Linked DNA regions of Homo sapiens: region 2 is linked to region 1. The links come from fine-mapping of genetic effects on gene expression. A gene starts in region 1. The other region holds a variant in brackets. All regions are shown on one strand. Distances are from middle to middle. Region 1 holds the start of EDAR (ectodysplasin A receptor). Region 2 has its middle 41 kb from the start of EDAR.

The links. PIP is the estimated chance that this variant, and not a neighbour inherited with it, causes the effect.
Region 2: its variant is fine-mapped to the expression of EDAR in whole blood (TOPMed, PIP above 0.99).

Annotation. Positions count from the first base shown.
Region 1 is chr2:108,981,061-108,996,260 of GRCh38, forward strand. It overlaps EDAR (ectodysplasin A receptor), which reads right to left and starts at 8,160. Exons shown (of 12, transcript NM_022336.4): 1 at 7,900-8,160. It also overlaps a transcript of RANBP2 not described here. RefSeq lists an enhancer at 6,633-7,134.
Region 2 is chr2:109,023,020-109,038,219 of GRCh38, forward strand. It overlaps a transcript of RANBP2 not described here. Among named protein-coding and RNA genes, the nearest start is that of EDAR, 41 kb to the left of the region's middle. The variant T/A (reference allele first, on the strand shown) is at 8,566.

The DNA.
Region 1 (15,200 bases):
CAATGTGCTCACGGCCCGCTCTAAGCACTCTGCCTGCCTTGGCTCTCGGAAATCCACATAATATTCCCATGAGGCAAGTATGTGACCTTCCCTCGGGGAACTGAAGTGACAGAAGTTACCCAGCAATGATGATCTGACGTTCCACCACCAGCACGGGAAGGGGCTGGCTCTGGGCCTGTGTCCACCTGAGGCTGGGCTCCTCCCCACCCTGCCGCCAGCATTCTTTCCAGAGCCGCACCCGCCCCAGGTGGCTAGCCCATGCCAGTCCAACCCCACCAGGACCAGTCCACCCCAACTTCAGGGAAGAAGAAAGGCTCCTGAGGTTGAAGTTGTCTGGCGCGTCTTAGGTCTGGTATGACTGCTATTGTGAGAAGAATGGCTGGCCAGGTCTGCTCTTGGCCTTGGGGATACAAAGAGAAGCTTCCATTTTCCGCTCTAGCTCCCAGCATCCTGCAGCCCAAACAACACCTGTCCAGGATCCGGGGCTAGCCAGCAGGGCTGTCTGCTGAGGTGTCTCTGGGGAGTTCAGCCATGTTTAGCATTTCACACATCTGTCTATACCTAGACCTCTGCTCGATATATACTATCCCCACACCCGAGATAGTTATGATACAAGGTTAGACTTCAAGCTAATTTGAAACAGCCCACATCATCCCAGCTCTCATTTCTGAACGAGCCCATGGAAACGACAGCAAGGCGAAGTCCATGAACTTACCAGGAGGGAGGTCTCAGGCAAGCCACCTCACCTCTCCAAGCCTTACTCTGCACATGTGTGAAGCAGTGATGATTGTCTCTATTTCACAGGACTGCTGTGCAGATTAAGACGGAAACGCTAAGGAAGCAACAAATGCCCAATAAATGTGGGTTTCTTCAACATTTATTGAATACCTACTGTGTGCAGCCACTGTGCTAGGTGCCAGAGAATGAACAGACGGATGCTTCCCGTCCTCAAAGAGGGCACAGTCAGTGCAACGGCAGGGACAGATGTTTAACGGCTCAGTAACAGCACCATGCAATTTGGCTATCTCTCCTATTTCCTCCTTTCAATGCTTTAGGCCATGAGAATAGGGGCCAGGTCTTTTATTTCTATTAGATCTCCCAAAGCCTTGAGAAAGATCTAGAGCCCGTTGTCTTACAGCAAATGCAGTGGCCTCTCTAACAAAGAAATGTTCCAGGGTAAACAGGAAAGCAGCCACCTCAAACCCCATCCAGCCCACACTGGGAGAGCTGTTTACAGAGATGAACCCAGGGAGGTGGGTGGAAGCCTCAGACCCTCCCTGGTGGGAGGCTGTCCTGCCACCAAAGGCCTCCATCTCCAGAGGCTCCTGCTTTAACTGATGCCGTGGGAGGCATGCAGCCAGTCCTTTAAGAACTAGGGACATTGGCGTTTGCCAGTGTCTCAGTTCTGTTTATTCTGTAAACATAAGGAGGAGCTCAACATTCTGTTGTACTTCATTTTGCAATCTTCACAAAATAAATATTTGCCTTCAAAAGCAACAACTGTGATAATCATCAGGATAATATTCTCCAGCGCCATTTCCCTCGCACATGCCAGGCACAGAAGGCAAGTCAGAGTGCTGTGTGTGGTCTGTTTGGATAATAATTTTCATCTGGAAACCTCAATTTGGAAACCAACTGGCAGTAATTCTAGAGAAAGTTTGGTCTCCTGGTTTTTAGAATTGACTCAAAACCGAGTGTCCCGAGTCACCTAAGTCTCCTTGCTTTGGTTACGTCTGCCCGTAAAATGAGAAGCAAAATTGCTTAGTGAGTGCTGGCGGGAAACTAGGACATTGGCGGGGTTCACAGTGGCCACAGAACAAGGACTGGCCACCCAGACAGGCCAGGTGCCTGCTGCATGTGCAGGGATGGTCTCTCTCTCTCCAAATCTCTCTAAGAATGAGCTAAAATTCAAAAAGAGTTCTGCTGAATGTAAATGGTACTTATTGGAGATTTTATTGCCCATAAAGAAATCCATCAACAGAAAACCACACTCTGCAAATCTACCGATGCACAATTAGTTTGTGCTGCTTACAAATCCCACTCTAAACTCAGCTGTCAGTGCCCTCCCTTGGCCACGCTTCTTGGAGATACAGGCTTTCTGCAGAGGATGCCGCATGTCAACAAACACATCCCCAAAGTGTACACTCTGATTTATCTTCTTCATTATGGACAGGAGGCTTTAGGAACAGCCATTTTGAGTCTTTATTAAGGACTAAATCTTAAAGAAAATGAACCTTGAGACTCCTCTAAAGTACCTTTTAGGGATGCTCAGTGCATTTCCATATTTTTAAGGATTAGGATTTTTTGGGGCCAGAGGTAATGTTTATTACCCAAGGACACAGAGCCTCAATCCAAACAGTAAACCATAAAACCACATCTAACTGGGTAAATAAAATCAGCCAACTTAATAGACATCTGCATCCCACTGGAGCATTCCCCGTGGCCTTCCACTTTCCTGTATTCATCAGACCCCAACCAGACATCAAGTCAACAATCCCGCCCTTCCAGCTCCTCCCTCGTGATCCATCTGTCTGCCTTGACTGCCCTGGAGTTCCCAGAGACAGGTATCCTCCTCCAGACTGACTTCCCTCCTAATCGACCTGCATCTTCCAGATACGAGGAAGGAAATCAAACTTTCCAGGTGCTGGTGGCTCCGTGCGGGACGGGGCAGGGAAGCCACCTTCTCTCCAACTCCAAAGGCCATATGGAGTCAACAGGAACAGGTCTGGCATGCTGGCCAAGGGCATCAGTGATCTCTGAACCCGTTCTCCAACAATTTTGCCAACTGAGCCATCAGAGAGCCACTGCGTCCCCACTCCATCTCACACCCGATGCTGGAAGGTGTCCCTCTCTCCAAGTGAGGAGGAAGCGAGTGCAGCTGGCCAGTGGCTCTGCGACTGTGGGAGTGTCCCAGCAGGGCTGCAAGGGGGGCGACGGCGATGTCTGTTGCTAAGTGTTCTTTCTCTGCACAACTTATTGAGTCTTGATAATCTACTTTCAGATTTTTGGAAGTGTAATCATGTGTTTCAGGTTAGGGTCTTCATAATTTTTCTCAGAATGGATCCCTTTGGCATGTGTTAACGGCCAAGGGAGCAGGTGTTGGTGAAAATGGATCATTCCTCTCCTGCCACCCTTCCTGCTGCCTGCCCTTCCTGCCCTGCACCTCAGCCAAGCCAACTCTCCCAGGAAGAGGCTACTTGGAGACCCAGCTCCTTAGAAGCAAATTACAGCAACCGGCGTGGCATGGGATGGGGTGGTGTGGGCACTGACTGTCCCAGAACAACACAGGGCGTGAGCCACCATGGCTGAACTTCCGCCCTGACTTGACTTCTGTTTGCCTTTCCATCACCCTCAATGAGAGCCCAGCCCCCTTGCCACGGCCCGCTCAGGCTCCTGGTTCTCCTCTCCTCTCCTTCTGTTCAACCCTCCTTTCCCTCTGCTCCGGCAGCATGGCCTTCCTGCTGGTGCTGGGACATCTCCAGCTCACCCCACCCCAGGGCCTCCTTTCTTGCGGGTGTCCTGGTTCACTCCCTCACTTCATCCAGGTCTTTACTCAACTATTTCATTTCCCAAGAGGCCCCCACTACTACCCTGGGCACCTTCTTTCTACCTGCCCTGCTAGTTTGTTTGTTTTTTTTTCATGGCGCTGGATTTATGCATTATAGCTTCTCTCCCTGCAGCAGAATCTAAGCTCTGTGAGTGCAGGGATGTTCTCTCTCCTCACCCATGGGACCACTGTGTTACTCACTACATCCCAGCATGGTGCCTGGCATGTAGCAGATGCCCAGAAAACATTTGCTGAATGAATGAATGTGCACTAAAACCAACTTGAAATCCTGCCTGCTTCCTCCTGTGCATGCAGGATTCTGTGCAAACATGGGATTGGAAATATGGCAAATGGAAGTTTTAAGAGAAGAGATTTGGTAACCATCTGAGAGTCGTCAAAACAGTGCATGCCCTCTCATTTTTTGCTTGCAGTCTGGTTTTGCATGTCTTTCTTCTATCCTAAGAAAGTGCTTTCTCTCAGGATTAAGGTGTTGTTGGCAGAATCAACTCTTTTTTATTTTCAGGAGACTAATACTGTATCTTATTTCAGTATTTGGGCTCACCTTTTAGTTGCCTATATCTAGCTATTGAATGGTATCAGTTAACAACATCAGCCTTAAGCCCACCACTAAGCTTGGCTTCTGTGCTACACTGCGGGCCTCAGGGCTGTTACTAAGAGTAACGTGACTGTGGTTGTTATTGCCCTCATTGCTGATTTCGTCCGACTCACAAGTGAAGGCGCGCCTTCCTACTGTGTTTGGAGCAGTAGGTCTGATTGACCGTGAAGTGAGTTAAGCTGGCATGAGCTCGCAGGGTGGTGCAGGCAGGGCTACCGCCACAGGTGCATCTTCCTCTGTAGGGCTCCTTACGGCCCACCTGTTTTCCATAGTCCTCTGTTTTCTCGGAAATGGAAAACAAAGGCATCCTGGCTGGTTACATGTGTACGTAGGTGTATAAAATGATGGGCATTTCCAGAGTGTGTCTGGGCAAGAGGATCTGGGCAAGGAAGCAGGACCTCCAGCTTCACCCACATGTGTCTGCTCCTTCCTGGGGTCCAAACAGTGTGTTTGCCACCCTTGGGCATCCAGCATTTGAGAAATAACAGGTGTCTCTGCCCCCAGAGAGGGTAGCTTTGCTAACTAGGATTTGTTTGCTTATTGACTTAGGGGATGCTGATGTTTGAGCAGCCCCCTTGTCCCTAACTGTGTCATTGGAACAATTGGTGACCTTTCTCTGACAAGAAGGATGAAGGAGCCCATTCATTCATTCATTCATTGGACATATTTTCATGGAGTGCATGATGTCCTTGGGGTGTGCTATGACTGAAGACACTTCAGGTTGTAGGATCCCTTAATACATGACCTAATGAATGGCTGATCCCTGCCAAGACCCAGGGCAAAGCTTTTTTCATAGCTTTGACTGTACAGGGTCAGCTATCCTTGGGTAATGCTTTGTGACACTCTAAGGGCAATGATGAAAAATTAAATATGGTCAAGCTCATTTGTCTCAGGGGCCAGTGGGCTGTTGGGATGCCTGAGCCCCAAATGCCATTTTGAGTTTTTTTTTAGTTACTAGACTATCTTAGACTGAACCACCTACAATGGCCTATATTTGACAGTTTTTTTCACTATATAAAAACTACAAACACTCTAACTTTTATCAGGAGGGTTCACAAAGAACAAAACTGAGACTGTTTCCTCTTGATCCCTCGCCTCTGAGGACAGGAGATGAGTGTGTCTGGGGCTGACACGACCCTGGGAAACTAAGATACAGGAGGGGGAGTGTTTGCTTACTCCACTCTTATTTTTATAATCCCTGGTGGCTGTCATTGCACCATCTCCTTGTGGGGGCAAATGTGTCAGTGTTGGAGGCAGAGGACACAGGTTCTAGTCTCAGCCCCTCCAATTATGAGTGACAGGCTCCACACGAGGCCTGGGCATACTGAGTGCTAACCTAGACCAGTTCTTGGTGTTCCCATAATCATTATGAGCTGTGGGACTTCGGGCAAGACAGTGAACCTCTCTGAGCCTCAATTTCCTTATTGGGAAAATAGAGAAGACATTCATGACAACGCTTTGTAAAGTGCCATAGAAATGTACAGCAGAGGTTAAATGATTAGACATCAGCTTATGTTTCCTTGCTTTATTTTTTAGGAAAATAGTAATCTTTGGGACTTAAAAAAAATTCCTTCCTGCAATATACGAATTCAGTAAGGACAGAATCGTAGGCATTGAGATGGAGGCGGCATACTCACAGGAAAGGCTGGCTGGGGCTTTTGTCCCCTAATTGATCTAATGTGCTAAGTGGGCTTAATGTAAGTTAATTAATGATACTATTGGTGGGTGGAATACCTAGGCAGAGCCTCAAACAGCATCAAAGGAACGAGCAGGCAGGTGTCATCCAGGATAATTGAGGCATGCAGGCAGTCACTAGGCAGGCTAGGAGGAGGGTGAGGGGAAACTGAGCCCAGCTGAGGGGCTGAGCCACTTAAGCAGCAAGGCTGTCTGCCAAACACCATCCTGTTTACAGCTCCTGTATTTGAATTTCAGATTTGCTTGAGTCTTTGAAGCTGGGTTCCTGGGCATTTCCTTGAGAATAAATTCTATTCTTTGGAAACCACAAAACGCACTCACTTGGACCCAGAAAGGAGCGTCAGGTAACCCAGCTTCCATCTGTGGGCCTATGAGACCTGAGGAACTTTGACTAGAAGAGGCTCCCCATTTAACAGAGGCAAGTAGGTTTTGCGCTCCGTGAGATGGGGTAAGACCAGGTCTGTCTGCACTCCGGAGCAATGTTGGGCTGCCGCCCAATGGCAGGCACTGGGCTAGGCAAGAGGGTACCATGATGCCTGAGAAACAAAGATGAGCCCCTGACATGTCTGTGCTTCACAAATGTGTATGCCCAACAAAATGAAAGTCCAGCTCACAAAAGCAAGAAACCAGGTAGTGGCCAGGGAGTGAAAATCAAGCATTTCAGGGAAAGTGTATTTACTTTTTCCTCCCAAAGACTGGTCCTTCCAAGATTATCCTCCAACTGTGCTGTCACAAATTAATCCTCCCACAGCACAGCCTGGCCCACTTAGGGATGGGGAGGGGTACAGTGGAGACCCCCGGCCAATCGCCACCAGGATCGCCAAACTTTCCCAGCCGTGAAGGGTACACGTGGACTGTCATCGGAACGAACGCTTATTTCCAAGCCTTGACCAGAGTCACTCTCTTTTTGGTGGCCTCTGTCAAAATGTATCTTTAAAGGTTTTAAGTGGCTATGACTTACAAATCTCAGAGTATTAAGCCAGGCAAGAAACATTCTCTATTTTAGATGCCTGGATCCCTTTTTTCCTTCAGTCTATTATGGCTCTTCACTTCTTTGTTACACTTTCACTCTTGCTTAGAAAGTGTCTCAAAAATGCCACTTGAGAGCCACAGAGCAGTGGCCTGGGGACTGGGGAAGAGGACGGTGGTGCTCCTGTCTCTCCGTACGTCTCCTCACATGCGTGTACCCCTGGCTGTGTGGGATTGCCCACTGACCGGCATCTGCCCTGCTTGTTGATTTTAACTGTCCCTCTTGTTGCTGACCCAGCACAACATGGGCAGGGAAACCCAGTGGGAACCTCGCCTGCTGACCTCCCTGCCCAGCCACCCGCTTCTCCCTGAGCTGACATCTCAAAGCTTGGCTGCTGCAGGAGGCTGGGAATCAGAGCCGACTGAATCAGAGCCGACTCCTGTCTAGGAGCCCAACCCACCCCACGGTCTGTCAGAGTGTTGAGAGGAACCTCTTGGCTGGAAATGAAAACCTCAATCATCACAAATAGGTACCCACTCCCCTCCTTCTCTCCCTCTCCCCGCTCCCCCGCCACCAACACAGAGGCCAGGATATGGGGGGTCTCAGACACGACTGGAAACCCCACTTGGAAGGTCTCTTAGGTCACAGCGGGTACGCAGAGTTGGAGGCAGGTACAGAGCCCAGCTAGAGTCCCTGCCGCGCCTGCCTTCCCCAGTGAGCCGGGCACAGGGGCAAACCTGAGAAACATACTTTTCACGCTCCCTGGAGGAACCCGTTGCTTCAGTAGCCCAAATCTTAAAGCCTGTGAAGCACACACAGAATTTGTCTCCCTAACCAAATGTGCAACCAACAGCAAAACAGGGTTTCTGATGTTTTTCTAAAACAAAGGAACAATCTCAGGTCTTAGAACTGGTAGCGCAGACATACTGCAATCGGTAAAGCTTGTTCAAACGCAACCCAAAAATGACATGCATTTCAAAAATGCACCCAGCCTCTCTCCCAGCCCATGACACCTCCGTCTCGGCCACAGCTGAAGAGTTTAGAAAACCAGAGGAAAGGACCAGGGCTTACCTGGCTTCTGTTGGAGGTCAGCTTCAGTCCCAGCAGAAGATGGGTCTATGAAGAAAGTCAGGTACCATCCAGTTCTGGGTGACAGGCTTCACAGGTGGCCACCGTGGCAGCCCTCTCAGAAGCAGGTACTCTATGTCCTTAGGGGCCAGCAGGGCTGCCTGGGACCTGGCACACCTCTCTGACACTAGCCCCGCTTCCTTTCCGTTTAAAGGGCTTCCCGGGAACTCTTCCTTGACCGCTCCCTGCCCTGTCTGCAAGTTTGGAAACTCAGTCCTTGCCGAGGGGCTTTCCCTCATTGCAAACTCACCTGCACCATCTAGAGGTCTCTCCCAGCACTGGAGAGGCTGGAGCGGGCACGTTCAGCCCTGCTGCCATAGGTCCCTGGCACACCTGGCTCTCCGGCCGTCTGCCCCTTAAGAGATCTGTTGGAATGCGTAAAAATCATGGATTTTTTTTTTTGCAGGGGTGGGGGCCTTGCTTCTATCAGAGCCTTTAGGCGTGGGAGTGCTAAAAAGCTAAACTAGCATTAAAATATCATTAATCAAAGCTTGTTCGTAGAAGGACCCCCCACTGAGATGGCTACAGGCATGGGTGCCACTGCACGGATTCAGCTTCCAACATGTCTGTTCACATTCTCACCCATCCCCCGCACATCCCTCAGGGTTTGAGCCACCAGGACTGCTCTTCCTTTCCTCTCTCTGGACACCTCACACCACCAGTGTATACCCATGTAACTTCAGATAACCATACACACCCCCCGTATAACTAGGTAATTAGGAAGCCATTTGAAACATCAACATTTTGAAAGGACATACCTTTCAGTATTGGGCAATTATTTCTCAAAAAGTAAATGATTGGGGGGGGGAAAACAGCCTTAAAATAATGTCATTCTCTTGTCATTTTCTCCCTCATTCACACCTACACAGATAAATACAGGAACAGAGCAGCTCCTCCAGGCTAGATTTCTGTGTTCTCCTTTTCCATCTTGTCCCCTCTGCCTTGGAAACCTACAAGGTAACTCACACATGAGAAAGTAAGAGCTTAAGAAAGAAACAGTCTGGGCTCCGTGGCTCACACCTGTAACCCCAGCACTTTGGAGGCTGAGGCGGGCAGATCACTTGAGGTCAGGAGTTTGGGATCAGCCTGGCCAACATGGTGAAACTCCGTCCCTACTAAAAATACAAAAATTAGGCCGGGCGCGGTGGCTCACGCCTGTAATCCCAGCACTTTGGGAGGCCGAGGCGGGTGGATCATGAGGTCAGGAGATCGAGACCATCCTGGCTAACAAGGTGAAACCCCGTCTCTACTAAAAATACAAAAAATTAGCCGGGCGTGGTGGCGGGCGCCTGTAGTCCCAGCTACTCGGGAGGCTGAGGCAGGAGAATGGCGTGAACCCGGGAAGCGGAGCTTGCAGTGAGCCGAGATTGCGCCACTGCAGTCCGCAGTCCGGCCTGGGTGACAGAGCGAGACTCCGTCTCAAAAAAAAAAAAAAAAAAAAATATACAAAAATTAGCCGGTGGTGGCATGTGTGGAGGCTAAAGCAGGAGAATTGTTCGAACCCAGGAGATGGAAGTTGCAGTGAGCCGAGATTGTGCCACTGCACTCCAGCCTGGGCAACAGAGCGAGAATCTGTCTCAAAACAGAAAAGAAAAGAAAAGAAAAAAGCAGACAGAAATGTATGGGGCTGGGGCAAGGACCTAGACTGTAAAGGACTAATTCTGCCTCCACAGAGATTAAGCTGAACCAGAGTTACTTAGCTGACTTGATCCTTGTGGATGATTAATCTAGATAATATAAGCTCCCAAACAAGAATTTTAACTTGAATTTTCAGGTTTGGTTGTCTACCCTGCTCATGCCGAGTTCAGACTGAGGGTCTGTGATAAATTAAAGTCACTGAAATTATTAAATTAGGAACCTGGGAAAATGAATGGGAGGTATTCTGGGCTAATCTGTTCTACTCCATATAATTTTTACTTTCTGGTGTGCTCACAGTGTGTTTGAGGTTTGGGATTATTTTAGGTGTAACTAAAACATTTTTTCTATTGGAAATTAAGTGGTGATTTAAAATTTACCAAAAGGAATGATACTGATATTTCCCAAAGAGAGAGAAAAAAGACACAAGAAAAAATTAAAATGGCACAAAATATGGATGCTGTAATAGAAGCCAAGGGAGTTTTTTCCTCTCTTTGAAAAAAATCCAAACATCATGGCATTAAGCAAGGTTATGGATGGTTATACTTGAAGTCTGCCTAGTCATCATATCCAAATGAAAATGAGTATATAATTAATTCAGTTGATTAAGAGAAAGAATGAAATGAGAAATCATTGCTTATCTTCATCATGTAAAGCTCCAGAGCTTTGAAGATATGTGATTTTCTGTTTTATACATTTCCTAAGAGACTGAGGCAGAAATAGCAACAGGTTATCAATAGCATTTTTTAAGTAAGAAAATGAATCAAGACTGCAGAACATGGTTGGGTGAAGGGGGTCTCCTGGGGCTGTGTTCTAAATTTAGAACAAATTTAGAAATGATGAATGTAATTTAGAACAAATGAATTGTAATTTAGAACACATGCTTGCTACACATAACAGCCCGGCCAGCCACCTGCCCCCTTCATGAGGTGTGCTCAAATGCATGGCCAGGAGTCTTATGGAGGGGCACAACAGGCAGGCTGGCCCCAGCTCTCAGCTCCGCAGCAACAAAACTTCGCAAGTGATTTTAGAGAGTCAATGGACTCCCATCCCTGTAAAAAACACTCAGGGGTTGGTAAGAATTATCTTGCAGATCAGATAATTTCCAGTGAGTGAAACAGAGCCATATTCTGGTCATCGTGATTTTAAATTTGTGTCTTTTATTTTTTTGGTGAGACAGAGTCTTGCTCTCTCGCCCAGACTGGAGTGCAGTAGCGTGATCTTGGCCCACTGGAACCTCTGCCTCCCAGGTTTAAGCGATTCTCAGCCTCCCGAGGAGCTGGGATTACAGACATGTGCCACTGCTCCCATCTAATTTTTGTATTTTTAGTAGAGACAGAGTTTCACCATGTTGGCCAGGCTGGTCTCGAACTCCTGACTTCAAGTGATCCTCCTGCCTCAGCCTCCCAAAGTGCTGGGACTACAGGTGTGAGCCACCGGACTCACCTTAAATCTGTGTCTTAATTACAAATCTCATGTTGTGTGAGCAGAAAGAAAATCCTTGATACCCATGTACCCCATCAAAGTAGCATTCTCCTATGCCATCATGTTCATGTGTTTATTCATGCAGCAAATGCACGTCACGTCTTCTACGTGCCGGTACTGTTCCAGTTGCTGGGTAGATCACAATGAGAACAACAGTCAAAATCGCTGGCCTCAAGAAGCTTATGCTCTGTTTGGGGAGGCATAGAGTAATCAAGTTATGAAATGGAGATGAAAAGTACTTCTTGGCCGTGATAAGCAAGGGTGCACAGGATGCCTGGATTATTTGTGTTTGTATGTGAGGGGATTATCAGTTGGCTGGTGACAGTTTCCTGCTACTAATTACTGTCTCAAAAAGTGGCAGGGGAATCAAACACTCCAAAAGCAAGATGCTCCTGTCTGGCAGCTGGGCCCTGACATATAATTGGTTTCACCTAACAACTCACCACAGCAAGTAAACTTCTGGTTACCTGCAGGTGAAGTCTATCTCAGAAAACCTTCCAGGAAATGACATTGCTCAAATCCTAACACAGTGTGTGTATATTTGATGAAATGTTTTTATGCTCATGGTGACACCCACTAAGTTATTCAGAATAAAATGATCACAGTTCTGTCTATAGTGTAGAGTTTGCAGCTTCAAATTTGTCCCACAACTGGGACTGTTTTCTGGAAGAACGTTGCCCCTGCCTCGTGGCACAGTGGCTCCCAGGACTGACCTGGCCTGGCTTCTTTGCTTTCCTAAAATGCGTTTGTCCCCAGCTCTGTCAGTGGTAACCTCACAGGGCTCTGCCCTCCTCAGCACTGGCCAGCTAGTTTTTAAAGTATCATCTCAGAGCACCCGCTACTCATGTGGTCACAGTTCCATAGGCAGAAAAAACAGGAATATAAATATTTGTGATTTAAAGTCTCTCTTAGGAACCACACCTTCCTAGGCTTGCAAATGTGCCTAAAATATGAGAATGGAATTGGGTGATACGGCGGACACCAGCAAGCTGATGTGGGGGTAAGGGGGTGTGAGGGGCGGTGCTTTGGTTGTTGAGAAGGAAAGTTGACCAAGACTTGCGAAGGAAGAAGGCAGTCCTGCAGAGTTGGGCAGAAGGTGTTTCAGATGGACCAAAGGTCTTGTACAAAGGTCCTGTGGGGCCCAGAGCCAGGTGTGCTGAGGAAACTGACAGGAAACTGTGGCCACAAAGCAGGGAGCTGGCCTGGGAGGCAGCTGAGCCCAGCCCAGGAAGGGTGGTAGAGACCACATTCCACGTGGGGGCTGGACAAAAGGGTATGGATTCTATTCCAAGTATATCATGATTTGAAAATGATGGAAACTTGTTTTAGAAGTAAAATGGGCCACTATCCTTAGCAAAATGAGGAAAGGGAGAGACTAAGTCTGGGGGAGTATTTGCACAGAGGGAGGGCCTTTAGGGTGTCACCTAGATACCGGGAGATGAAATGCTATGTGAACCATTGTCAAGCTTGGGTGATCTGTCCTCCCCCAGCATAAATTCAGATGGGACAGCTCCAGGTCAAAGGCAGAGGAAAGAGCTGGGCTTTGCGTTGATTGTACCCTATTGGAGAATGAGATTCTGCATTTAGTTATTTAACTAAACTTTGAACACTGACCCCCTGCTACTGATTAAACAAAAGCCTGGCTTTCCTTTGGCTACCTGCCTTAGCTTGGGCTGCTATAACAAAAATATTGTAGGCTGGGAGGCCTCAACAACAGACATTTGTTTCTCCCAGTTCTGGAGGCTGGGAAGTCCGAGATCAAGGTGCCCAGCAGACCCAGTGTCTGGTCATCTCCCATGGCAGATGGGGTGAGGCCGCTGTCTGGGGTGTCATTTACAAGGGCACTAATCCCATTCATGAGGCTCCATCTCTAGCCTCCATGACCTAATCACCTCCCAAAGACCCCACCTCCAAATACCATCACCTAGGAGCTTAGGATTTCAATATATGAATTTCAGGGGAGACACAGACACCCAGACCACAGCACTTCCCATTTGCCCAGGATTCCCCCCATGGACACCTTATTAAAAATGCAAGCTGGATTTGGAACACAGCTGTCAATAATGACTCTGGTCACATAAAGGAAGGACCATAATGAACCACCTCCATGGATGAAGGAAAGCTTCAGGCCAGGAGCTTCGTGCAGGGCAAAGGCATGCCCTCTCCCGTGGCCTAAGCTCTCTCTGCTCCCCAGCCAGGGTTTGAGACGGCCCCCACCACCTCCATTATGTAAGCAGTGAAAACATAATTGAAATTGATCCTCGCTGAGAATGGCTTTACGAGCTTGAATAGTGCAAAGGTTCAAATACTAAATCTTTTTTACGATCTGTAATATTGTCATTTAGCTCAACAGTACACATCACTATGTTTTTCTAATAAAGGAAACCACAAGAGTATTATAAAACCTATTTGCACTATACCAGAAAAATTAAGAGGGGAGAAAACTGAGTTTAGAAATATGAAATATTGATATCTTCATTTGAAAATCAACAAATTCATCCTTCCAATAGGCAAGTACATATTTCTATCATAAATCATGGCTCCGGGGAAAGGGGATTATGGGGTCATGGGATTATCATGCTATTAACCAGTGGATATCTAAAAGCAGGGAAGTATGGGTCCATAGTATAAACATAAAAAATTATCTGTGCATTGGGTTATATATATATATATATATATATATATATATATATCTTTTTTTTTTTTTTTTTGAGACAGAGTCTCGCTCTGTCGCCCAGGCCGGAGTGCAGTGGTGCAATCTCGGCTCACTGCAAGCTCCACCTCCCGGGTTCACGCCATTCTCCTGCCTCAGCCTCCCGAGTAGCAGGGACTACAGGCGCCCGCCACCACGCCTGGCTAATTTTTTTGTATTTTTAGTAGAGATGAGGTTTCACCATGTTAGCCAGGATGGTCTCGATCTCCTGACCTCGTGATCCACCCGCCTCGGTCTCCCAAAGTGCTGGGATTACAGGCATGAGCCACCGTGCCCGGCCGCATTGGGTTTTATTTATTAGTATTTATTAATCAATGGATTTTTTTCTAGAGACAGGGTCTTGCTCCATCACCTGTGCTGGAGTGAAGTAGTGAGACTGCGGCTCACTGCAGCCTCAAACTCCTATGCTCAAGTGATCCTCCCACCTTGGCTTCCCAAGTTGCTGGGAATACAGGTGTGCCTGGCCAAATTAATGAAATTAAAAATCACACCTATTACAACATTTTGCAGGTAATCTGTAAGGCAGAGGAACGATTGATTTACAAGGGCTAATGTGTTCTTGCAGGGGGCATGTTAGTTCTCCCTTACTCTTCACCTGCTATGGATATGAACCCATTGTCCAAAGATCCCCAAAGCTGTGGTCAGCAAAAGAAAGCCAAAATGGGAATAAACAGGCATTTTAACAGGAATTCACCCTGGCTGGCAGAGCTGCTGCCTGCCACCTCTTCCCAGCCTCCCTTCTCCAGCAGGAATCTCCCAGCTCTGCTCAGAGCAATATGCCTGGCTAAATGGTTGCATTTCTTAGCTTCCCTTGCAGTTAGATGTTGCCGCGTGCTTCAGAACTGTCCAATGAGCCACAGCAGGTGTCAGAGACTTCCAAAAAGGCTGCCAACTCATCTGGGAGGAAGCTGTTCTGCCCCTTTCCATGCGTCCCCTTTGCTGCCACCTGGAGTGTGAACATGACAGCTGGGTAGACATCAGAGTAGGACGGAAGGAGCTCCAACCCCTTGTGCAGCTGCCCCACCAGGCCCAAATTACCTGCCTCATTCATGGGAAAGAATAAACCCTCATGTCTTTCAGCCACTGTAGCCAGGCCTTATTAATAAAGACTAATTAATTTGCAGTTTCTCATTATGAAAAATTGGGATATGCAATTTATTCTTTTCTAGATAAGCAAGGTTTAAGAAAGTCTGCTTTATGGCAATTTTAGCTTTCATATCAGTTCTGCTGGGGTATCATTCATAGTATAAAATGATTCCCCAAGGAAATGAAGTGTTGACTAACTGGAAAGATTCTGATTTGGGAAGAGGGAGTGAAGAGTGAGAGTTCCCTGCTGCCTAACAGTGGGGATAGGTGCCAGGCTTCTGGTGTTGACCAGGTTTGAACCCCAGGAAGGTCTGAGTCTGGGTCT
Region 2 (15,200 bases), 42 kb after region 1:
CAGCCTGGGTGACAGAGCGAGACTCCATCTCAAAAAAAAAGAAAAAAAGAATTATCCTAGGATTAAGATAATCACTGTTTTGATGAAACCTTGATAATATGTACAGAATGCTTCTGCGCTCTTAAGCAAAACATACATAGCATGGGTCACCTAGTGATGACTGAGCACTGTCATCATGAATGCCTGCAACAGCGCAGGCTGCGTTAACAGAGGTGCCCTGTGGACGCACAGGACATACAGAACTACTGTCTCCTGCAGTAAAGGATCCCAAACTTCAGTGCCCAAAATACAAATATGACCTAGGAAACAGAAGAATTAGGCAGTTTAAAAAATTGCTCTTTTTCTAATTACAACAGTAATATATGTTCATTGTAGAAAATTTGTATGCACAAAATAATAAAAGAAAAATTAAAATCACTGAGATGAGGTTTAAAATAGCTTTTTGCTGTCAGCCCTAACTGTCATGTTGTTGACGTCAGTAGGTACAACTGTTAAAAGTCAGCCTGGGCACAATGGCTCATACTTGCAATCCCAGAGCTTTGGGAGGCCTAGGTGGGAGGATCTCTTGAGGCTAGGAATTTGAGACCAGCCTGGACAACAAAGTGAGACCCTGTCTCTACAAAAACATCAAATAAAAATCTCTAGCTGGGTGCAGTGTGTATACCTATAGTCCTAGCTACTCAGGAGGCTGAGGCAGGAGAATTGCTTGAGCCCAGGAGTTTGGGGCTGCAGTGAGCCTTGTTTGCCCTATCGCTCTCCAGCTTGGGCAGCAAAGTTAGACCCTATCTCAAAACAAACAAACAAAAACAAACAAACAAAAAACTCTCTTAATTTCTACCTAACAGTCTCTTCTCTCCTTCAAGGTAATGTACCTGCATTTTGTGATCACTGCTTATATTTTTATTTATTTATTTATTTATTTTGAGACGGAGTTTCACTCTTGTTGCTCAGGCTGGAGTGCAATGGCATGATCTCGGCTCACCACAACCTCCACCTCCCGGGTTGAAGCGATTCTCCTGCCTCAGCCTCCTGAGGAGCTGGGATTACAGGCATGCACCACCACGCCCCGCTAATTTTGTATTTTTAGTAGAGACGGGGTTTCTCCATATTGGTCAGGCTGGTCTCGAACTCCCAATCTCAGGTGATAGGCCCGCCTCAGCCTCCCAACGTGCTGGGATTACAGGCGTGAGCCACCATGTCTGGCCCACCTGCTTTTATTTCTGGGTAAAATGGTGTTGTTGGTTTCAAGAAGATAAGCTAGATGTTATCATGAATGTACAAAAACTTCCTTTATACCCTTATTCTATAAAAAGACAAAATATCAATTCAAGTCTGTAAGAAGCTGGTGTAAGTTTGCAAAGAATTACCAGTCTCTTTGAATCTTTTCACGGCTACTGTCGAAAATCTCAAAACTTTGCAGGTAGATTCCTGAACAGAAGATGTTGGGGTTGAAACCACCTTTGCAAAAATTCTAACAGTGAGAAAATTACAGCAGTGAGGGGGTTCTGGTCTAGCCAACTCCCCTCTTGCCTTTAGCCTTCAAGCTTCACCTCTGAAGACTGATGCCTGAACCTGGAGGTGACGTGGCTGGAGACAGGCATGTCCACCAGCAAAGAGGCACCTCAGGGTGTCCACTTCATCCTATGTCCTTCCAGGTGATAGGTAGTGGGAGGCTTGGCCCGGCTGGTTAGGACTGTGGGCCCTAGTCTTGGACGTGTGCACCTGGGGACAAACCTTCACTGGAAGAGGGGAAGAAAATATTAGAACTTTAACTTCATTGTTTATCTAAATATTTTAAATTGATATTCTTTTTTAACTTATTTTATGATTGCAAAAACTATATATATAGCATATAATTGACCATATTAGCCACTGTTAAGTATAGAATTCATTGGGATTAATTACATTCACAATGCTGTGCAGCCATCACCACTCCTTCCAAAATATTTCATCACCCCAGATGGAACCTCTGCCCATTAAGCAGAGACTCCTTATGTCCCCTCTTCCCAGCTGCTGGTAACCGTTCCCTCTATGAATTGATCTCTATGTATTTGACCATTCTAGATAATTTATATACATAGAATCATACAATATTTGTGCTTTTGTGACTGGCTTGTTTCACTTGGGTTTTCAAGGCTTGCACATGTTGTATGTAGTGTGTATTAGAATTTCCTTCCTTTTTAAGGCTGAATAATATTCCATTGTGTGGACATACTGCACTTTGTTTAACTGTTAAACTGTTGATAGACTTTCAGTTGATTTTAGCTTTGTGAATAATGCTGCTCTAATCACTGGGGTATCTGTTTTGAGCATTTGTTTTCAGTTCCTTTGGGTATATATTAAGGAGTGGAGTTTCTATTCTTTTTATGTTTAAAAAGATCTGTTTTTGTGTTTATATATAATGGGTTAGCAGAGTAGTAAAGATATGATTTATAACTTGACGTACATATTTTGGGGAGCCAAAAATATTTTCTGGAAAAAGTCCATTATAAAAAACAAGGACATAGGGCGGGTGCGGTGGCTCACGCCTGTAATCCCAGCACTTTGGGAGGCTGAGGCTGGCAGATCACGAGGTCAGGAGATCAAGAGCATCCTGGCTAACACGGTGAAACCCCGTCTCTACTAAAAATTAGCCGGTTGTGGTGGTGGGCGCCTGTAGTCCCAGCTACTCGGGAGGCTGAGGCAGGAGAATGGCGTGAACCCGGGAGGCAGAGCTTGCAGTGAGCCGAGATCACGCCACTGCACTCTAGCCTGGGCAACAGAGCGAGACTCCGTCTCGAAAAAAAAAAAAAAAGAAAAAAAATTACATCAATAGGTTAGAGCTTCACATAGAGATTCTGGCAGCCACATGGTTAATTCCTAGATTTCTAGTTTTTCACAGAGATGGGGGACGACGTGTCCCATTTGGCCTGGGACAGTCCCAGCTGATGTCCTCATCCTGGTGTAATTGTTAGTAGTCCCCTTCATCCTCACCAAGGCCTGCCCTCCCTGGGGGAGCAGAAACGCTTGCAGTTCAGAGCAGGTGGGAAGAGACAGCAAGAGGAATTGGCTCAGCACCACCACAGAAAAGCAGCTCAGAAAGATCCAGTGCATGGAAGACAGCACATTTTATATTTAAAATTTTAATTTTGTTTATTCTAGAGAAAGGGTCTCACTCTGTCACCCAGGCTGGAGTGCAGTGGCATGATTGTAGGTCACCTGAGCTCCTGGGCTCAACAATCTTCCTGCTTCAGCCTCCAGAGTAGCTGGGACTATAGGCTCATACCACCATGCCTAGCTTTTTTTTTTTTTAAGAGATGGGGTCTTGCTATGTTGCTCAGGCTGGTCCTGAACTCCTAGGCTCAAGCGATCTTCCTGCTTCTGCCTCCCAAAGTGCTGGGACAATAGATAAGAGCCATCACACCTGGACAGCGCATTATTTTAATGGCCACCGTTTTTGCTTTTAGAAGAGTGTGTCTGAGGTATTGCCTGTCCCTTGGGCCCCTCTTCCCTCTGAAGCAAGGGGACCAAAGGCTGGCTATGCAGTCATGAGCTCCCAGCTCTAAGGTGAGGAAGCACCGTTAGTGTAGGATACACTGGATATGTCATGTATTCAAGTGGGGAAAGCAGCAGCCCAGACTGTGCCCCTCACATCCTGATTGCTCGGCACCCTCTAGGTGGGGAAAAAGCTCAAAATGATCTTTTAGAAACAGCTGCTCCTCTCAGTCTTATTTCCACACTTGCCAATTCAGAGCTGCCAAATACTTCTTAAAAATCATTAGAAGTGGCCGGGTGCAGTGGCTCACGCCTGTAATCCCAGCACTTTGGGAGGCCAAGGTGGTGGATCACGAGGTCACCATTCTGGCTAATGTGGTGAAACCCCGTCTCTACTAAAAATACAAAAAATTAGCCAGGCATGGTGGTGGGCGTCTCAAAAAATAAAAAAGAACCTCTGAAGACATTGGCCGGGTGTGGTGGCTCACACCTGTAATTGCAGCACTCTGGGAGGCCAAAGTGGGCAGATCACTTGAGGTCAGGATTTTAAAACCAGCTTGGTGCGTGGTGAAATCCCATCTCTACTAGAAATACAAAAATTAGTTGAGCGTGGTGGTTCGCACCTGTAATAGCAGCTACTTGGGAGGCTGAGGCAGGAGAATCACTAGAATCCTGGAGGCGGAGGTTGCAGTGAGCCAAGATTTGCACCACTGCACTCCAGCCTGGGCAACAGAGTGAGGCTCTGTCTCAAAAAAAAAAAAAAAAAAAAAACAAGGACCTCTGAAGACTTCTTGAAGGAGGGTGGGTCTCCTGGGGGACTAGCCTCATCTTGGAGGCATTGCAGAGGTCTCCTGGGCCCAGCCAGACCCCAGACATCTTGTTCCTTTGTGGAGTCTTCAAGGGAAGAGCTTTTGAAGCCATAAGGAAAGACTGGATTTTGAAGACAAAAGTAACTTTCCTCTTTTGAAGGCAGCATGGAGCCAAGGAAGCCTGTGGAGCCTGACATGAAGGCACAGGCTCTGAGCCTGGCATGTCCATCCACCCTCTGTTTATGATACCCTGGGCAGGGCCTAAGCCCTCCTGGGCCTCAGCTCCCCTCCTGTAAGTGGTGACAGACCTCACAGGGTTATTGGGCACTGACGTGGACAAAGTATCTGGAAGGAAGCAGTGCTGCGTAAGCGTCGTTATGACTATGGGGACTCAGCAGGACCTAGGCCAGGAGCAAGACCTAGAGTTGATGAGGGCCTGGGCTCCAGGAGTGGGCGGGGTGGGTGGGCGGCAGCTCTGCAGCCTGGCATGCTGGCCTCCCCGCCATGCGTCTTCCTTCTCCCTGCAGGCTCTGAGTCCCTGCCAGTCCCCTACTTCTGTCTCTCCCAGAGCTGCTACTCACAGATCCATCCTCAGAGGGAGCACTGGGCTCTGCCAGTTAATGCATGTGTCCTGCTGAGGCAGGGAAGAGCTCAAGGCTTTCCTGGTACTGTTTAAAAACATACTGGCAGGGTGAGGTGGCTCACGCCTGTAATTCCAGCACACTGGGGGGCCAAGACAGGCAGACATCTTGAGCCCAGGAGTTTGAGACCAACCTGGGCAACATGGTGAAACCCTGTCTCTACAAAAAATGCAAAAAATTACCTGGGCCAGGTGACATACACCTGTAGTCTCCACTACTCAGGAGGCTGAGGTGGGTGGATCACCTGAACCCAGGACGTTGAGGCTGCAGTGAGCCATGATCATGCCACTGCACTCCACTCTGGGTGACAGAGTGAGACCCTGTCTCAAAAGAAATAAATAAAATAAAAACATATTGTTCGATTTTAAATGCTAAACCATAATTGACACCTGAGCCTCAGGGCTAATGGAAAGTACAAAGTGCATGCTGGGCCACGGCCCTTACCTCCACTGAAGGAAGAGCCTTACACCAAGAAGGTAGGCCCTGCTGCTGCACCCTGGCTTCCCCGTTGCTGGGAGGCCTGTCTCCACACGCCACCCTCAGGCCCTCCTGCACAGTGGCTCATGGTGGCTGACACACTGTATTTGAGGGTGACAGTCCTTGCATCAACATCTGGACAGTGCTGAATGCTGTTTCAATCTCCTCTGCTGTGCCCTAAGCATCCGATCCCAACAGCCCTCACTTAGAGGAGTGCTCTGACCTATTCCACAGGCCCTCCGAGGGTGGCAGACATGCACCCAAATGAGTAGCTTAAGTCAGTAGGCCCGGTTCTTGCCCTTCCCCCACACATATCTTGCCCCTCCTACACCTTGACCCTGGACCTAAAGCAGCAGAACAGAGCTTAGAGGTCATCGGGTCTAAGCCCCACTCCTGTCTTCCAGAGCAGCCTCACACTCTCAGGATCTGTGTGGCTGTCAGGGACTGTGAGGGCCAACTGAGAATGCATGTGTGAATCTGGCTGTCACGACTTTAGTTGTGATTGTTTATTTATTTATTTGTTTGTTTATTTATTTATTTATTTAGTAGAGACAGGATTTTGCCATATTGCCCAGGCTGGTCTCAAACTCCTGGGCTCAAGCAATCTTCCCACCTCAGCCTCCTAAAGTGCTGGGATTACAGGCGTGAGGCACTGTGCCCGGCCTATGTGATTGTTTATTTCTTTAGCCCTCACCTCATTCTAAACTACAAAAATAAATAAAATAAATAAATAAATAAATAAGGTTTAAGGCAAGATTATTGTTATTACTGTTAATAGGACACCTGGGCCCTTTCCTCCTTCATGTCAACACTGAGTCTATGGAGTCCCTCCCCATCCCAGCCCCCATTCACCCCCATGGCCGCAGCTGCTGGGTTCTGCCTTGGCCACTCCTCCAAGTTCCTTCCATAAAGCTAGTAAAGCATCCAGGAGAGGGATGATGAGGGACCATGTGTAAATGGGAGAAACTTCATTAGGGTAAGGAAGGCATGGGAATCTGGAGGTGGGAAACCATGATGTGGCTGACACTGATGCCTGAAGTTATTGAAGGGTGCCTCAGCCCTCCTGGGAAGCAGCAGCTCAGTGTGTGTCTGTCCGTTTCCAAGGGAAAACCTGGTCCTCTCAATGAGGGGAAAGAGGAGATTCTGCAGCATGTGTGTCCCTGCCGGGCAAACTTTACAGCATCAGGCTCCAAAAGTAGAGCAGGGTGACCCTGGGGAGCCCTCCCTCCTTCCTCGGCCTGGGATGCCTGCCTGCTGCCTGTGCTGTCTCCTCTGTTCCCCTCTCCTTTCCTGGCTGGAACAGCTGCAGGACAGGGCCCCCCGGCAGCCATCATCCAGCCTTTCATCTCTATCCTTGTCTCCAGCCTTGCCAGCAACTTAAGCCTAATCATTGCACAATGAAAGGCTGTTTCTCTCAAATGGATGCAGACATCCTTAGCCTTCAGGGGCAGCCTCTTATTTTGCTCACAGATAAGGCTGTTTATTTTAAAGAAATACTATACTAATAACCCTCTTGACTTGACAAGGATCCTGGTTGCTATCTCTGTATTGATGGATTGATTGATTCATTCATTCAGTAAGCATTTACTGAGTGCCAGTTCGAGTGTGTGGGTGAGTCTTAGATTTACTGCCTCCTTGACATCATTCTTTAGAAAGAATTCTTTGACTCTAACTTTTGTTTGCTACCTCAGAATGTTCTGCCTATGCAAAGAACAGTTTCAAATCAACCTGGATTCGAGAGCTCATGAAACTGATCCTCAGCCTTCATTTTCAGCCTTTTCCTCAATCCTCCCCTGCACAGCCAGCTGGCTCAGCACTCTCCCCAGCAGGCCATGCGCTCAAGTGCTTTACCTTCAACATTTTCCCACTGAAGACCCAGCCTTCTCCTCTAGCCAAATTATGGTATGCTACGTAAAATTCCTTAGAATTCTATTTTAAGTGAATTTCACGTAAGTAAAGCCCATTGTTAATGTCATTGGAAAGGTTATTTTTAAATGAAGAGGTGTGCCATACCCTGCCAAATGTGATAATGTGTATAGTAGCACCTAGCACAGTGCCTGGTGCATTCTGGATAGACAGTAAATATGACCTGAATGAATGAAAGAATGGGCCTCACTGTCTGATGGGATGAGGCTCCCTGAGAAGGAGTGGGGAGTGGTGGCCTCTTTGAGGATGACCAGCAGGCTGTTAAGCAGAAGGCTCCTTCTAGAATTGTACTTTCCTGAGTACCTAGGACCAGCTTGGGGCCCCTCAGGCATCTGAATTTTTGGACCACTTTGGTTTATATAACCCACTTCTTATCCAGGTTCTGTCTCTTGACAGTTTTTGTTGTTGTTGTTGTTGTTTGTTTGTTTTCTAGGTCTCACTATGTTGCCCAGGCTGGTCTTGAACTCCTGGGCTCAAGCAGTCCTTCTGCCTCGGCCTCCAGAGTAGCTGGGACCACAGGTGCACCACACCCGACTTTGGCAGTTTTTTAACATCTCCCAAGTCTTTATTTTCTTGGTAAAATGGTTTAATAATTGGTATATATACTCATAACTAGTACACAGACTAACACAGTGTGCATGTATACCACCATCAGTGTCATCTGCACCTTTTGTCTCACTGACTCATGGTAAGACACGGAGCGCTCCACGAGGGGACGCCATGTGTGGAGATGCTGGAGTCTAAGGGTATTGTGATTGGGCAATGGTAAGAACTCCGGGTCCCTAAGTCCATTCCTGCTGCTACAACAAAACACCTTAGAGAGTAATTTATAAATAGCCATTTCCTTTTCACCGTGCTGGAGGCTGGAAGTCCACCATCAAGGTGTCAGCAGTGAGGGGGGCCTGTTCCTCACAGATGGGGGCTTCTTGATGGGTGCTGGCTGACTCAGCACAGATGGGGGCTCTGATGTGGCAGGGGTGGGGTAGAGACGGGAACGCTCTGCAGAAGGAGCGGAAGGGAGGAAACAGCTTCCTCCAGCCTTCTTATAAGGTTATCAGCCCCGTTCCCCTTACGACGGAATCACTTCCCTGGAGGCCCCCTCTTACTACTGTTGCACCGGGGACTGGGCTTCAATCAGTAGCAGCAGGGGATGCGCGCTCAGACCCAGCAGTCGGCTCTGCCCGCCTCGCCGGGCTGCACCGAGTCCGCGGGTCTCTAGCGCACGGCCTGGCCCCACG[T/A]GCGGCGAGGAGGGCGCAGTGAAGTTCTGCTGTGTGCACCCCCTGCAGCTCGGCCGGGAAGCGCCCGCTGGAGGAACGGAGAGCGCCGCTTCAGCGTCGGCCACGTGGGCCGGGCTCTGCCGGTGGCAACCTGGACGCGCTGCGGGCGCCGGCGAGACCTGCGCCAACGCCTACCTCCGGGCCACAGGCGGGATAAAGCTGCCCCACTTTGCCCCCAGCGAAGAGAACCCTCCTTCCTCTAAGTATTTTCTTCAGCAACTAAGCTTTTCTGTTTGCTCAATTTCTTGTCCCGTGAGCGCTACCACCCACCCCCCGCCACCTTCTTCCCCTCCCCCCACATCCGTTCACTCTCTTTGACCTTTTGCCAAAACTCTGAACGCTCGCTGCCCTCCCTCCCATTTCCTCACCGCGTTTCAGGAGCTGTAAGTTCTTGGTGTTCAAACCCCCTACGGTTACGTAAACAGAACTCTGCAGTTATCTTCTTTCCCTTTCTTCGGAGCTTTGTTTTCAAGTTCATTAGAGACTTCCTGTGGGTGTAATTACCGCTCTGCAGTTTTGAGCGCTGCCCACCTTCCCCCTGTTTTGTTAAAAATGTCATAGATCTTTGGAGATTTCTTTCACTTCTAAAGTTATTACCTGTCTGCCTGCACATCAATCTTGTTGATTTTATTTCAGGGCATTTTCCGGAGTGAACTTCTGCATAGCGATTTTTTTTGTCCCTCCCCACCCCCTCTTTGTTTTGCAGGAAGGTGAAATAAGACAGAAGAAAAGGGTTAGAACTTTAGAACTCCAGGACCCAACCTCAGTCCTTTCAAGCACCGTCTGCAAACAGATGCTGTGCTAGACTCAGCACCCTGTCTGGTGAAACTGCTCCTTGGGGTGACATCGGTCGAATGTGTGAGAGGCTTCAGCGGATGCCCTGACTTTTACACCATGGAAGGGCTTTCTCCTCACTCTCCATTCTTCATCCCACTCCATCCATGCGCTTTCTCCCCTCCCCATGGGGTGGGGTGGGGGAGTCTTTCCTCCAGCTGAGAGCAGAGGCCTTGGCCAACTAGATGTGTCTTCTGGGATTTCACAGTCGGGCCACCTCTCACCTCTTGCACAGGCTGGTGGGTTAAATGAAACTCCTGTAGCAACTCACAGAGCATTTGATTTAAAGCTAAGATTTATAGGAACTCACAAGTCAGAATGGAACAATAATTTCCCTCCGGTTGCACTGCCACTACTGAGGAGCAATCGCCTAATTCCACACAGAGTTTGCTGATTCTGTGGGCCTAACAGAGAACTCCAGATGGGCAACTAGGAGCTAAGAAGTGCATCCTATGTCACCAGGAGCTAATTTTCCCTGGATTTTCAAAGAGGCCTCATATTTGACCCATGTCATGGCAGGGTGAAATATAAGTCCTTCCTGAACCCTTGGAAGCTGAACGTTGTGGACATCAGCCATGGGAAATACATTTCCTTTAAACTGATCACCAGGCCTTAGTATGATCCATGCCTTGAGTGGACAGAGACCTTTCATGTTTGGTCATTACTCAGCCAGACACTTCTCTGAGAGGTGATGACTTCCCTAGGAAGGAATAACAAAGCCCCTTTCAGGCTGTTGATGGGCCCTGTCCACTTTAATTTTGCATTCAGCCTCGCTCATTTCTGTGAGCTGAGATTTTGATTATTCTGATTTCCACGACTCCTTTTGTGAAACAGAGACACTGAGGTGAATGCACGGGCCCAGTCCCCTCCTTTTTGAGTGTGCCCTCGGAAGCAGAGGCAGGTGGTGTTGCCGAAACACCCAGGTTCTGTCTAGGTCCTGCCGCTCCCTGCACAGAAAGCCAATCACAGAGATGACAAGTATTGCCAAGGAAGAAGGCTTTAATCAGGTGCTGTAGCTGAGAAGATGGGAGCCCAGTCTCAAATCCATCTCCCCATCCACCTAAAACTAGGGGTTTATACACCAGGGAAGAAAGATAACAGTGTGTAAGAAAACAGGAACTACGGAGGGGCAAGGAAGCAGTCACAATGTAGGGTATCTCATTGTCTGGATGTGTTGATCTGGTGAGTTTCCCTTCTTTGATGATACTTTTTTTTTGAGAGGCGGTGGCTCATGCCTGTAATCCCAGCACTTTGGGAGGCTGAGGCGGGTGGATCATTTGAGGTCAGGAGTTCGAGACCAGCCTGGCCAACATGGTGAAACCCCGTCTCTACTAAAAATACAAAAAAAATGAGCCAGGTGTGGTGGCGGGCACCTGTAGTCCCAGCAATTCGGGAGGCTGAGGCACGAGAATTGCTTGAACCCAGGAGGCAGAGGCTGCAGTGAGCCGAGATTGCACCACTGCACTTCAGCCTGGCGACAGAGGGAGACCCTGACTCCAAAAAAAAAAAAAAAGGTAAGGTTCAGCCAGGTGTGTTGGCTGACGCCTGTAATCCCAGCACTTTGGGAGGCCAGGTGGGTGGATCACGAGGATCACAAGGTCAAGAGATGGAGAACATCCTGGCAAACATGGTGAAACCCCATCTCTACTAAAAATACAAAAAATTAGCCGGGTGTGGTGGCAGGCACCTATAGTCCCAGCTACTCGGGAGGCTGAGGCAGGAGAATATCACTTGAACCCGGGAGGTGGAGGTTGGAGTGAGCCAAGAGTGTGCCACTGCACTCCAGCCTGGAGACACAGTGAGACTCCATCTCAAAAAAAAAAAAAAAAAAAAAAAAAAGGAAGGTTCAAACTTTAGAACCAGAAGGGTCAATTTCTACGTTTATCCAAAAAACTATTTATGGGACTATTGGGTCAATTTCAGTGGGAGGCCCCAGGGCCATGCCCCAGAGGAAGAGACTGGCGTTTAGGGAATGAAAGCACAGGGAAGTGAGGAACGTGGAGTATTGCAGAGCCAAGCTGAGGGGCTATGGCAAGAGAGGCGAAGAAGAAAGACAAAGCAGCAAGCCAGCAGGCAGAGGGAGGCACAGTGAGGCAAAAGCTGGTTCTGGAGCCACCATGTAAGCAAATTCAGCTCCTTTTACACCTGGCTCAGGCCACTTCATGGAGCTAAGGTGGGGCCGGGTGCCCCATCTTCATCATCCTGTACTCCTAGATTCATTGCAAATAGTTTGTTCTGAGTTTTAGGGCCTTCTGGGATGAATGAGGGGGGTGGTACCCCATTCTTTGCCCACCATAAGCAGCAGAGAAGGCCTCCTCAAAAACCCTGGGGGCTTAGGTAAAACCCCTCTCCTGTACAGAGCACACTGTGAGTGTTCAATAACCAGTCATGGTTAGATTATCCAAAAGATTATCCAAAAGCCCATGCAGGAGGAGAGGGTATGAAAAGGGCATGGGAAATATTACAGAGAAGTGAGGGGGCACATTTAAAGAAAAAAGAAAAGGAGACAAGAATGGGGCTTAGGTAGGTCTGACACTTGGTGGGGGCCATTAGCCAGAGGACCCAGTGCTGGAGAGCTATCCCTGGTTTGTGAGGAGTTACTGGTTAGATAACCTCCCTAGATTGGACTATCCAGAAGGATCAGCATGGTACACGTATGTTTTTTGTAAGATATTGTAAGACATCATTTGTTAGATGTCAGATCAAAAAGTAGTTTGTACCAAGTCAGGGCTCCCAACCTTCTCAAGTGTGATGGCCATCTTATTTCTTGCCTGTTAACTCTTTTTAATAGTGAAATATGACAAACAGAGGAAAGTGCATTAAAACCTGAGTGTTGACTGCTGGTTCCCCCAAGATGGAGAGTCCCATTCCTCCCAGACACTCCCTCTTACAGGTAAAATATCTGGACATAACACAACAGACAGCAGAAGAAGACTCTGAAAGCTGGAGGAAGGAAGAAAAAAAGCCTAGGGACCTCAGACCTTGAAGAATGACAGGTGTGAGTCCTTGGATTTCCTTATCACCCCCCACCCCACCCCGCCCTTACCCTGGATGAGGCACTGCAGAAGCCTCCAACCAGAAACCACCAGCAGGCACAGACAAGCTCTAAGAAAGGCCTGGTCCCCCCTGGTCAAAGCACAGAGGAAAGGCTGGCCTGACAACAAAAGGAAACCTTTTTGGCAATACCCACCCTATCCCAGCAAAAGTCTAGTGGGCCTAACAGAACCTTCTAGCCCCACCTGTAGCCTCTGCTCTGCAGAAGCTGATTGAGTGCTTGAACTCTCTGGCCTAGTAGGGTGAGCACTCGAGCTGGGAGCTAATCCTCTGTTCCCTTGGCAGGGCAAACCCAAATGGGTAAACACAAAAAAAATAATTAAACTTCTTAACATCATAAACACCCAAAACTACAAACAAAGGAGAAAATATTGAAAGAACCAGAGAGAAATGAAGCATTATTCATGAGGAATATTTGTTTGAATGACAGTGGATTTCTCATCTTGAAACCATGGAGGCCAAAAGGAAGAGGCACAACATTTTTCAAGTTGAAGATAGAACTTAGAATCACAAATCCAATAGCCACTGAAAACGCCCTTCAGGAATGAAGGAGAAATCAGACATTCTCAGATGAAAGAAAACTTAAGAGAACTTATTGCCAACCTAGAAGAAATGTGCTAATGTCAAGAAAGCTACAAACTACCAAACTCAACGAGGATGATAGAGACAACCTGAATAGTTCCATAGCTGCTACAGAAATTAAAGTTATAAGCAAACGGCTCACAAAAAAGAAATCTTCAGATGAAAATACTTTAAGGAGTATTAATACCAATTTTACACACTCTATCTCAGAAAGTAAAAGAAAGAACGTTTCCTGGCTCATTGTATAAGGCTAGTATTACCCTGATACCAAAATCAGGAAAATGCAGTACAGAAAAGAAAGTTATAGACCACTATCTCTATAAATTTAGACACAAAATTTATCAACAAAATTTTGTAAACCTAATACAGCATCGTATATAAAAAATTATATACACCATGATGAAGTGGGATTTATTCCATATATGCAAGTTTGGTTCAATATTCCAGAATCAGTCAATGTAATTTACTCTGTTAACCAGGTAAAGAATAAAAATGATTATATCATTTGATGCAGAAAAAAAGATTAACACAATCCTATGCCCATTCACGGTAAAAAGTCTCAGCAGACTAGGAATGGCGGGGAGTGGTGGGGACAATCCTAAGTTGAGAAAGAGCATCTATTTAAAAACCTAGGCTGGGCACAGTAGCTCATGCCTGTAGTCCCAACACTTTGAGAGGCTGAGATGGGCGGATTGCTTGAGCCCAGAAGTTCAAAACTAGCCTGGGCAACATGGCAAAACCCCGTCTCTTCAAAAAATACAAAAATCAGGCTGGGCAAGGTGGCTCACACTTGTAATCCCAACACTTTGGGAGGTGGAGGTGGGCAGATCACTTGAGGTCAGGAGTTTCAGACCAGCCTGGCCAACATGGTGAGACCTCGTCTCTAACAAACAATACAAAAATTAGCTGGGCATGGTGGTGTGCACCTGTAGTCCCAGCTACTTGGGAGGCTGAGGTGGGTGGGAGAATTGCTTGAACCCTGGAGGTGGAGGTTGCAGTGAGCCAAGATCATGCTGCTGCACTCTAGCCTGTGTGACAGAGTGAGACCCTGTCTCAAAACAAAACAAAACAAAAAAACAAAAATTAGCCAGAAAGGGTGGTGTGCCTGTGGTCCCAGCTACTCGGGAGGCTGAGGCAGGAGGATCACCTGATCCTGGAAGTTCAGGGCTGCAGTGAACCATAATTGTGCCACTGCACTCCAGTCTGGGTGACAGAGCAAGACCATGTCTCAAAAAAAAAAAAAAAAAAAAAAGAACCAAATACTTAATGGAGAAAGATGGAATGCTTTCTCCCTAAGATTGGGAAAGAGACAAGCAATCTGTTCTCACCACTCTAATTCAACATAGTGCTAGAAATTCTGACCACTGAAATAAGACAAGAAAGAGAGATAAAAAGCACAAAGATTAGAAGGAAAGAAATAAAACTGCCCTTATTTGTCAAAGACCTGGTTGTCTACTTAGAAAATCCCAAGGAATTTACAAATAACTCCTAGAATTAATGTAAAGTCGGCAAGGTAGCAGGGTACAATAGCAATACAGAAAAATAAATGTCATTTCTATATATTAACAATGAACATTTCAAAACTAGCATTAATAACACAATACCATTTATGACAGTTCCAAAGAAAATTATATACTTGGGCATGAATATAACAAAATATGTACAACATTTGCACGCTAAAATTATAAAATGCTTTTGAAAGAAATAAAAGAGGATTTAGCTAAGTAAATCCAACCAAGTTCATGAGTTGGGTGACTGAACTTCCTAAGGATGTCAATTCTCTCCAGATTGATTAATAAGTTTAATACAATTACTCTTAAAATCCCAGCAAGGTGCTTTGTAGACATAGACAATCTTATCCCAAATTTACATGGAAAGGCACAAGTCCTGGAATAGCTTAACCAAACTGGATAAAGAATAAAGTAGGAGGAGCCAGTCTATCTCACTGTGTAGCTACAGTAATCAAGGGAGTGTGGTATGGGCAGAGAGATAGACATGTAGACAAATGTGGCAGAACAGAAAACCCAGAAACAGACCCACACAAACATGCTCGACTGATTTTTATCAAAGGTGAAAAACAATTCAATAGAGAAGGATAGCCTTTTCAATAAACAGTTCTGGAGAAA